Linked DNA regions of Homo sapiens. The protein of the gene in region 1 purifies or fractionates together with the protein of each later gene. This does not show direct contact. Each region holds a gene or a part of one and is shown on either strand. Other genes may lie near its edges.

Region 1 (4,578 bases):
GACATGAGACATCAATCAATATATGTAAGATGAACATAGCGGCTAGCTGCGGTGGCTCACGCCTGTAATCCCAGCACTTTGGGAGGCCAGCGGATCACCTGATGTCAGGAGTTCGAGACCAGCCTGGCCAACATGGTGAAACCCCCATCTCTACTAAAAATACTAAAATTAGCTGGGTGTGTTGGTGGGTGCCTGTAATCCCAGTTATTTGGGAAGCTGAGGGAGGAGAATCGCTTGAACCTGGGAGATGGAGGTTGCAGTGAGCCGAGATCACGCCACCGCACTCCAGCCTGGGTCAGAAAGCGACTCCGTCTCAAAAAAAAAAATTGGTTCAGTCTGGAAAGGCGGGACAATTTAAAGCAAAAGCCATCGGGGAGGGAGCTTCCTGGTCACAGATAGGTGATACACAAACGGTTACATTGTTTTGAGTTTCTGATTAGCCTTTTTTTTTTTTCTTTTCCTTTTTGATCAGTCTTGCTCTGTCGCCAGGCTGGAGTACAATGGCTTGATCTCGGCTCACTGCAACCTCCGCCTCCCAGGTTCAAGCGATTCTCCTGCCTCAGCCTCCCGAGTAGCTGGGACTACAGGGGCGCACCACCACACCTGGCTAATTTTGTATTTTCAGTAGAGACAGGGTTTCACCGTGTTGGCCAGGCTGGTCTCGAACTCCTGGTCTCAATGTGCGCCACCGCGCCCAGCCTTCTGATGAGCCTTTTCAAAGGAGTCAGTCAGATATCCATCTATCTCAGCGAGCAGAGGGTGACTCTGAATAGAGCGGGAGGCAGGTTTGCCCTGAGCAGCTTCCAGCCTGAGTTTTCCTTAGTGATTCCGGGGGCCCAAGAGATTTCACATGTTTTAGGTACTGAATGTCCTGGTTCAACTTCGGGCTTCGCTCTCAGATATGGAAAGCTCTGACAAAGCTGCTTTTTACATCTGTTGGGTCTCAAATGCCTTCAGTTTAAAATAACCTTCACATCCACTCTGGGGTTCCCAGTGGGTCCCCACAGCTCGAAATAACCCAAGGAGGGTCCACGGCGGGTAGGAAAGTCGATCGAAGGCTGGCGGCTGCGGAAACCCAGGGCGGGCAAGGAAGGTCCCTGGAGGGTGATTTTCCGCAACGCAGCGGCGGAAAGTGAGTGGCTTTCAGAGGCGGCAGGTGAGTGGGTTCGAGGCAGGGCTCTGGGGCCGCTTTAGGATATAACGGGATGAAGCCCCCAATGCGAACTTGGGGGCTGGGCAGCGCAGGGCCTCAGCGCCCACGGTCTACCCGCGGCCCGGGCCTTATGTGCGCCTCAGCGAGGCCCAATTTCCACATGCCTCGTTTCCAGCGAGCTGTCGGTGAGTCCCGGCGAGCCCCGACCCCTCTCTAGCCACGGCCTGACGGGTACGGTGGTGACCTCAGCCTCTGACCTCCGACCCCGCGCCGCGACCTCTCGTCGCCGGTCCCCTCGGAGCCGGGCGCGGTTTCCGGGGAACGCGTTTCCCGCCGCACCGTGGGCCGCCCGGACCGCGCAGGACCGGGCACCTTCCGGTGGCGGCGCGGAGCCTTGGGCCCGGCTGCGGCCCGGCGGCGGCCCCGGCGCGGTGCGGGCGTTCGCGGCGCCCCGGGAGCTGCAGGGGCCCCGGGCGGCGGCGAGGCCGGAGAGGGGCGGGCCCGGGACACCGGCACCCGGCGCCCTCGGAGCCAAAGGCGCGCGGCGGACACGGCGGGGCCCTCGCGCGGTGAGGACGCGGAGGCGTGTGGGCTCCTGTCACTTCACACAGCAAACGCTGCCCGCCGCGTGGCTCCGGAGGAGTCTCGCGAGGGGCGCCCCTGTGGCGTTTCGGGCCAGCCGGGCCGCCTGGCCGGGTGCGGAGAAGGAAGCTCTGCCCTTCCCCTGGCCCGGCGCGGAGCCGATTCTCCCGGGAAGGGGCCGGGGGTCCTAACTTCACCGCCGGGCGGCCTGCTCAGGGCCAGGCCCGCGGGGACGCTGGCGTCAAGGTTTCTTCCCCCTTCACGCCAGTCCCCTACCAGGCCGACATCGAGTCCCGCTCCCCAGGGAGGGTCAAGTCCCAGGGGTCCAGCGGCTCCCCCGAGGTCCGCTAGGAGGTGGCGGCACTGGAGTGGCCGTTCTCCAGCCTGCACCGACCCCCGCCTTTAGTGCCCCCGCGTGTGACCCAACGGTGGTACTGGAGCGGCCTTAGAAGGGTGACCGCTGCCTCTGAGTTGAGTCTTAAGCCCCTCGTTGGGCCTGGCTGAACCCCGGGTCTGCGCCTTTCCCCCAGCCTGGAGACGATGCCAAAGCTGCAGGGCTTCGAGTTCTGGAGCCGCACCCTGCGAGGGGCCCGCCACGTCGTGGCCCCCATGGTGGACCAGAGCGAGCTGGCCTGGAGGCTGCTGAGCCGGCGCCACGGGGCACAGCTCTGCTACACGCCCATGCTGCATGCCCAGGTCTTTGTCCGCGACGCCAACTACCGGAAGGAGAACCTGTACTGCGAGGTGTGCCCCGAGGACCGGCCCCTCATCGTGCAGGTGCGCAGGAGGGGCTGTGGCCGCGGCCGCGGTTGGGTTCCCGGTCCTGGAATGCCTGGGGAAAAACCCTTCTCTCTGTGGCGGGACATCACTTTCAGCCTTTCCAGAGACAGCTCAATTCCAGGAGGAGAGGGAGAAGGTGGCACCAGGCATGTAGAGTCCACGTAGCCACAGCAGTGATTCCTGTGGTGGAGCCAGGGCTGCCAGGTGCACCTGCCAGAATCCAACCCCATTCTCTAGGAGTGGCTCAGGCAGCCTGGGTGCTGTGAGGTTTGCAGCCCTGCTGGGGCCTCTGGATTGCTGCCTCTCACACTCACACTCCCTCTTCAGAACCAGTGGAGATGGCTCTGCTCTTCAGAAGTCAGTGATTGTGGCTTCTGCCACAGTTCAGAAGAAAATCTGTAAATCCGGGTGGCTTGGGGACTCCTCCCGGCTTTGTCATATTGTAAGCCTCCGCAGGACAGAGCACCCTCCTGCAGTGAACCTGGGCCCACACCCTCATGGGGTCACACTGGACCTCTCGTAGGGCTGGGCAGCAAGGGACTAGGGCCTGGCTGGGCCCGTGGCTGACTCCTGCATCTTCTCCAGTTCTGTGCCAATGACCCGGAGGTGTTTGTTCAGGCGGCTCTCCTGGCTCAGGATTACTGTGACGCCATTGACCTGAACTTGGGCTGCCCACAGATGATAGCCAAGAGAGGTGAGCTCCATGTGGAGCATGGGGGCACCTGGGGCAGGGGCCAGAGCCAGCTCAGTGCAGCCCCAGGTGTGGTGAGCTTGGAGGACGGCAGGCCCTGCCTCTGTCGTGACAGTGGCTCAGGCTGGAGCCAGCTGTCCTCTGTGCTCCGCCTCTGGAGGGTGGCTGTCCTCAGGCCTTGGGGGCTAGGGGCCGAGCCCTACTGGCTCTCTCTTCCCTCAGGGAGCTCCCTCTGCATAAACATGATTGCTGATACAGGGTCCCCATTACCCCCTTGCACTGCTGTGTGTGGGGCTGAGCCTGCTACCTCACCGGGCCCCTGAGGAGGTGTTACTTGGTTCCAGACCGTGCAGGGTGGGGGTTCCATTCAGCACCTTCTGAGCTTAGGCAGCTGGGCAAATAGAGCCCCTGAGTCTGATGCCGACAAACCACTGCTCTGACTGTCCCACTGCCCCAACTGGAGACACTGCTGGTTCTGGGGACCTGTGTCCCGCCTGACAGGGCAGCTCCTGGCCTGCGTGGATGCAGGAAAGGGTGCAGAGGGGGTGCAAGGCTTCGGCCCCACCAGCCTTAACACAGGTGCCAGCCAGGCCATGCTTGCTCCTTGCAGGTCACTATGGCGCCTTTCTGCAGGACGAGTGGGACCTGCTCCAAAGAATGAGTGAGTTGGCTGGGTGGATGGTGAAGGACCCCCAGAGACCCTCAAGAGGGACACATGGGCACTGTCCACTTGGTTGGGGCTCAGGAGAGGACAGGCGTTGGCAGGAGTTCTCAGCATCACCCTGGGGCTTCCTGCCCACAGCAGCCTCTCTGCTGGAAGGAGGTGGCTGTGAAGTTGCCTGTCCTGCACCACCCACCCCTTAAAACCAGACAGTAGGTGCCAGGGCAGAGTCCTTGCTCGGGCCCAGCCCCAGATGTCCTGGGAGACAGAGCCGGCCTTGGCCCTGCTTGTTTGAACTTCGGAGGGCCGGGGGTATGGCGGAGGGAGCCTGCCCAGCAACCTGAGGGAGACACCCAGATGGTGGCCCGGGCTGCCTCCCAGCCTCCCGGCAAAGCTGCCTGGGCTCCGCTGTCTGCAGGGCCCTGGGCTCTGGGGCTTGGCCGCTAAAGTGGGAACACCATGGCCCCCTCAGAAGCTGCCTCTCTTCTCCCCAGTTTTGCTGGCCCACGAGAAACTCTCTGTTCCTGTCACGTGCAAAATCCGTGTCTTCCCGGAGATTGACAAGACCGTGAGGTACGCCCAGATGCTGGAGAAGGCCGGCTGCCAGGTGAGCCCTGGGCTCGCGGGGGTGTCATGGGCCTCAGCTGGGCCTTTGCGCAGAGGACATAGCTGAGGCTCTTCCTGTGTCCAGACACCGTGCACCGTCGGCCT
Region 2 (3,809 bases), on another chromosome or scaffold:
AGGTCCTGGTGACAATCCCATGTACAGGACCTGTGCAGAGTAGCCACTGAATAAGCACAAAGCTGAACTGAAGAGAAACCCCAAAAGCTGAGGACTATGGTATCAGGATTTCCAAATACAAAGGACATCTGTAGATTTAAGGAAATTTTTAGGCAGAAAGTATAAGAAAGTCATTACTTGGAATGGCATACCATTCCTCTTAAACATCTGAGGAAAAATTAAAAGGAAAATGTAGTTTTAAAGACATTTAATTCCATAAGAACTAATTGTCTGCGGCTAGTTATTTGTTCTGTGAGAGGTTTGCATCTCATTTTAAATCTAAAGAATAATTAATTCTTTAAAAAATGGGACCCCCAGGCCAGGCATGGTGGCTCCCGCCTGTAATCCCAGCACTTTGGGAGGCCGAGGTGGTTGGATCACTTGAGGTCAGGAGTTCCAGACCAGCCTGACCAATATGGTGAAACCCTGTCTCTACTAAAAATACAAAAATTAGCTGGGTGTGGTGACGCACACCTGTGATCCCAGCTACTCAGGAGGCTGAGGCAAAAGAATCACCTGAACCTGGGAGGTGGAGGTTGCAGTGAGCCAGATTGTGCAACTGCATTCCAGCCTGGGCGACAGACTCCACTTTAGGATGCAAGCATACCTGTGCAGTGAAGGCCTTTCCAATAGTTCCACTGCAGCGACAAGATACTCTGAAAGTCAAGTCATTCTGATTATGAGTATCAATTGCTTTCTCTATGTCATTCTGAAATTCTTCTTCTTGAAACTTTTCGCTTTTAGTGGTAAAATCTCTTTGCTCCAGAGTTTCTTCTTTTATTTGTTTTTCCAGCTGGCAGTCCCTATTCTCTTCTATCTTTTGCATTTGTTCTATTTTTAATTTCTTTGCAATGATTTCATTTTCTCCCACTTTTCTTTTTAGTTGGTTATCATCTCTCTGAGAAAGTTTTTCCTTTTTTGCATCAAGTTCAAGAAGATTTTTCCAAATTGAAATGGCATTCAACCAACTTCCTGGATCTTCATTTATAAGTCTTTGCATTTCATTAAATATTTTTCCTAAATAAGAAAAATCTTGTTGATCCTCTATTGAAGCTTTAAAGACCATCTATTACAATCATCACCCTCAAACTCAATTACCTTTATTTCCTTGAATTAAGTTTTATTAAATTGCTACACGAATAACTTCACTTTCATTTGGAGTTCATATTCCATTTACCATAAGAATATTGTGCAGAATAAAGTTCATTCTTACATTGCATATATAGCATCCGTATTGTGTTAAAATTCCTATAGAATTACCATATAATACCCTAGAAAGATTATTTGTGCTATGGTAATATATGTATCTCTTCAATATATACATAGACCTAGAGTGTTTATCAATCTTTGAAATAATGGTGATCTTCCCTATAAAAATTAAGTTTTTATAAGAAAAAAATAAACTGAAAAACTCAGCTCAGAAACAGAGGAGCTGAATCTTGGGCCTGTTACATTTTAGCCCACACCATATTAATAAGTATATTATAATGTGTTTCCATAAAGTAACTCACAACCCATTTATAGCTTAGCATACTGCCAGTATGCTCAGCAAAGTTTAATCTCTTCTTGATGAACCACAGTCATCAAGATGATCCAAAATTACTGTATTTCTTTAAGATGAATGTGTGTAGAGTACTAGGAGGAATTATATTGATCCCACAGTATAATACTTTGGGATTTGCTTTAAAACAATTTTCTCTGCTTGGTCTTGATTTCTTGCCATTTGCATCTTTCTTAAAATAGTTTATTATAGGCTATAAATACATGATCTCTTACGTAATTCAAATTGAAGTTTACGGCAGCATTTAATCCTGCAGTGTCTGACCATGTTTTGCTGCTTTTATCAAGATCCATATGTTGTTTTAGCAGCATATTTATAAAATTTAGAGAGTGGACAAGGAATCTCTTATGCCCCCTTTACCTCTAATGCTTGGTAAGTGGGCATAAGTTTATCGAAAACATTTAAGGTCCTAGAAATATAAATTTTTACTATGCAGTATTTTTCCAATTATATCACACAGTTAAAATTTACAAGGTGATGATTTTCACTGATTTACTATTAAAAGAATGCATTTTGGATTAGTTCATGTTTCTAAATCCAAATAAATGCAACTGACCATATATATCTCTAGAGAAGGTACCTGATCATAATTCTCAAAGAAGAAATGTGGCTTAGGACATTAAAATCTCATTAAAAAGGCAGCACGCAGGTTGCAAAGAGAAGAAATATTCTACTACAATCAGGTGATAATATTCAGGAAATACAGAAAAATACATAATTAATGATCCCACACATGTCAATGAATATTAAAGTGTAAAATGGCTACATATTATCAAGCAGAAAATGTTGGAGTACAATGTATCATGTGGGTAAAAGCAACATGCATATGAATATGCCATACCTTTACTTACAGAAGAAATAATAAGTGGAAACTGCTTTTTAATCAGCAAAAATAATCTTTCTGCAGATTTTAATTTCTTCAACATATTCAAATCAGAACAGGTGGTGAAAAAAACCTTTCCTGAAATATATTCAACCTAGAAATAGAAAAACAGCTTTTAATGTAGTCCAGTGTCAGTGAAAAAACCATATTTTTTCCCTCAAGATATAGCATCTAAATTAAAAATAAAAATAACCATTTCTGAAGTATCTACTATTTGTCAGGCTCTGTACTAGGAACACTGAATAAGTATTTTCCTCCTTATCCTTATAACCACCCTCTAAGGTAGATTCGATCACCACCAAAAGTAGACAAAAGAAAGGTATAATGTATTGGACAAATTAGGTGTCTAGCCCAAGATGGATATTTATTGAAGACCTACCTGTAGGCTACCAGGAAGCATAAAACATATATCCTGAATAATAACAGACACACACTGACATACACATTAAAACATAAGATTTATAAGACAATAACTTGAATTAAATCCAGAAGAAAACTAAAAAGTTTTAACATTATAATGCACTGACAAGCTGTAAGTACACTAAGTAGCAATGACTATGAAAGCCGACATTACAAAGAGTCTTGGGAAAGAATCCTGTAAGATTTGAGAAGAAGGATTCTAACAAAAGAACAAGGGGCAGATGCGGAAGTGGGGGTGAAAACCTGGCTGAAGTAAACTGTAAGCAACATTTGCTTTATTATGCTGATTGATAGTGTCAGGTGGATGGATAAAGTAGTTTAGGCCAGCTTGACAAATGGTCATGAAATTTTGAGTACCACGAATGGTAATGGTCAACCATTATAGACTTTTGATGAAAACTGTGACAGCACTGAATTAGCTGGCAGAAAAAATTACTCCAGAAGAGGCATAAAGGACTGAGTGTAGAATGTGATGCTAGAGGGAGAAGTAGGTTACTAAGGTAGAAATGATGAGATACTTGGCTGCAGAAACTAGATAATGAATAGAAGCAAGACATATGCATCAAACAGAAACAGGTTTTGGAGACAGGATGGATATGTGGCAAGAGAAGGAAAATGAAAAGAGCACTGACTCACAGGAAGCCTAACATGCTGTGACAAATGGTGCTCAATACCAGTGGAATCTTAACTCTTTTAGGGTCAACCCAACCCTCTTAAGTCCAGGATGGATGTGGGCTTTCTTGGAATTCTCTTTTTAGCAGTGGCCACCAATTGAATAACATGGTTCTAAATAATCTCCTAGAACACAGACACCAGGGAATGTGGGGTTTCCTGTGTGTTAAGGCAGCTACCATCCATGGGTACTTGAACTCCAAGGGTTTATGCTTGTTTTGGATCTGTCAAGAT

What was found.
Region 2: the proteins of DUS1L (region 1) and THUMPD2 fractionate together in Homo sapiens (co-fractionation; one large-scale study listed by BioGRID). This does not show direct contact.

Annotation. Positions count from the first base shown.
Region 1 is NC_000017.11:82,062,757-82,067,334, reverse strand, and holds the start of DUS1L (tRNA-dihydrouridine(16/17) synthase [NAD(P)(+)]-like), read left to right. Parts: upstream 1-1,530; 5' UTR 1,531-1,722; intron 1,723-1,820; exon of another isoform or gene 1,821-1,981; intron 1,982-2,265; 5' UTR 2,266-2,275; coding exon 2,276-2,512; intron 2,513-3,100; coding exon 3,101-3,209; intron 3,210-3,816; coding exon 3,817-3,867; intron 3,868-4,361; coding exon 4,362-4,474; intron 4,475-4,578.
Region 2 is NC_000002.12:39,769,064-39,772,872, forward strand, and holds part of THUMPD2 (U6 snRNA (guanine-N(2))-methyltransferase THUMPD2), read right to left. Parts: intron 2,578-3,809; coding exon 2,442-2,577; intron 1,057-2,441; coding exon 647-1,056; intron 129-646; coding exon of another isoform or gene 1-128. UniProt on the Homo sapiens protein: Catalytic subunit of the THUMPD2-TRM112 methyltransferase complex, that specifically mediates the S-adenosyl-L-methionine-dependent N(2)-methylation of guanosine nucleotides, most probably at position 72 (m2G72), in the U6snRNA of the major spliceosome.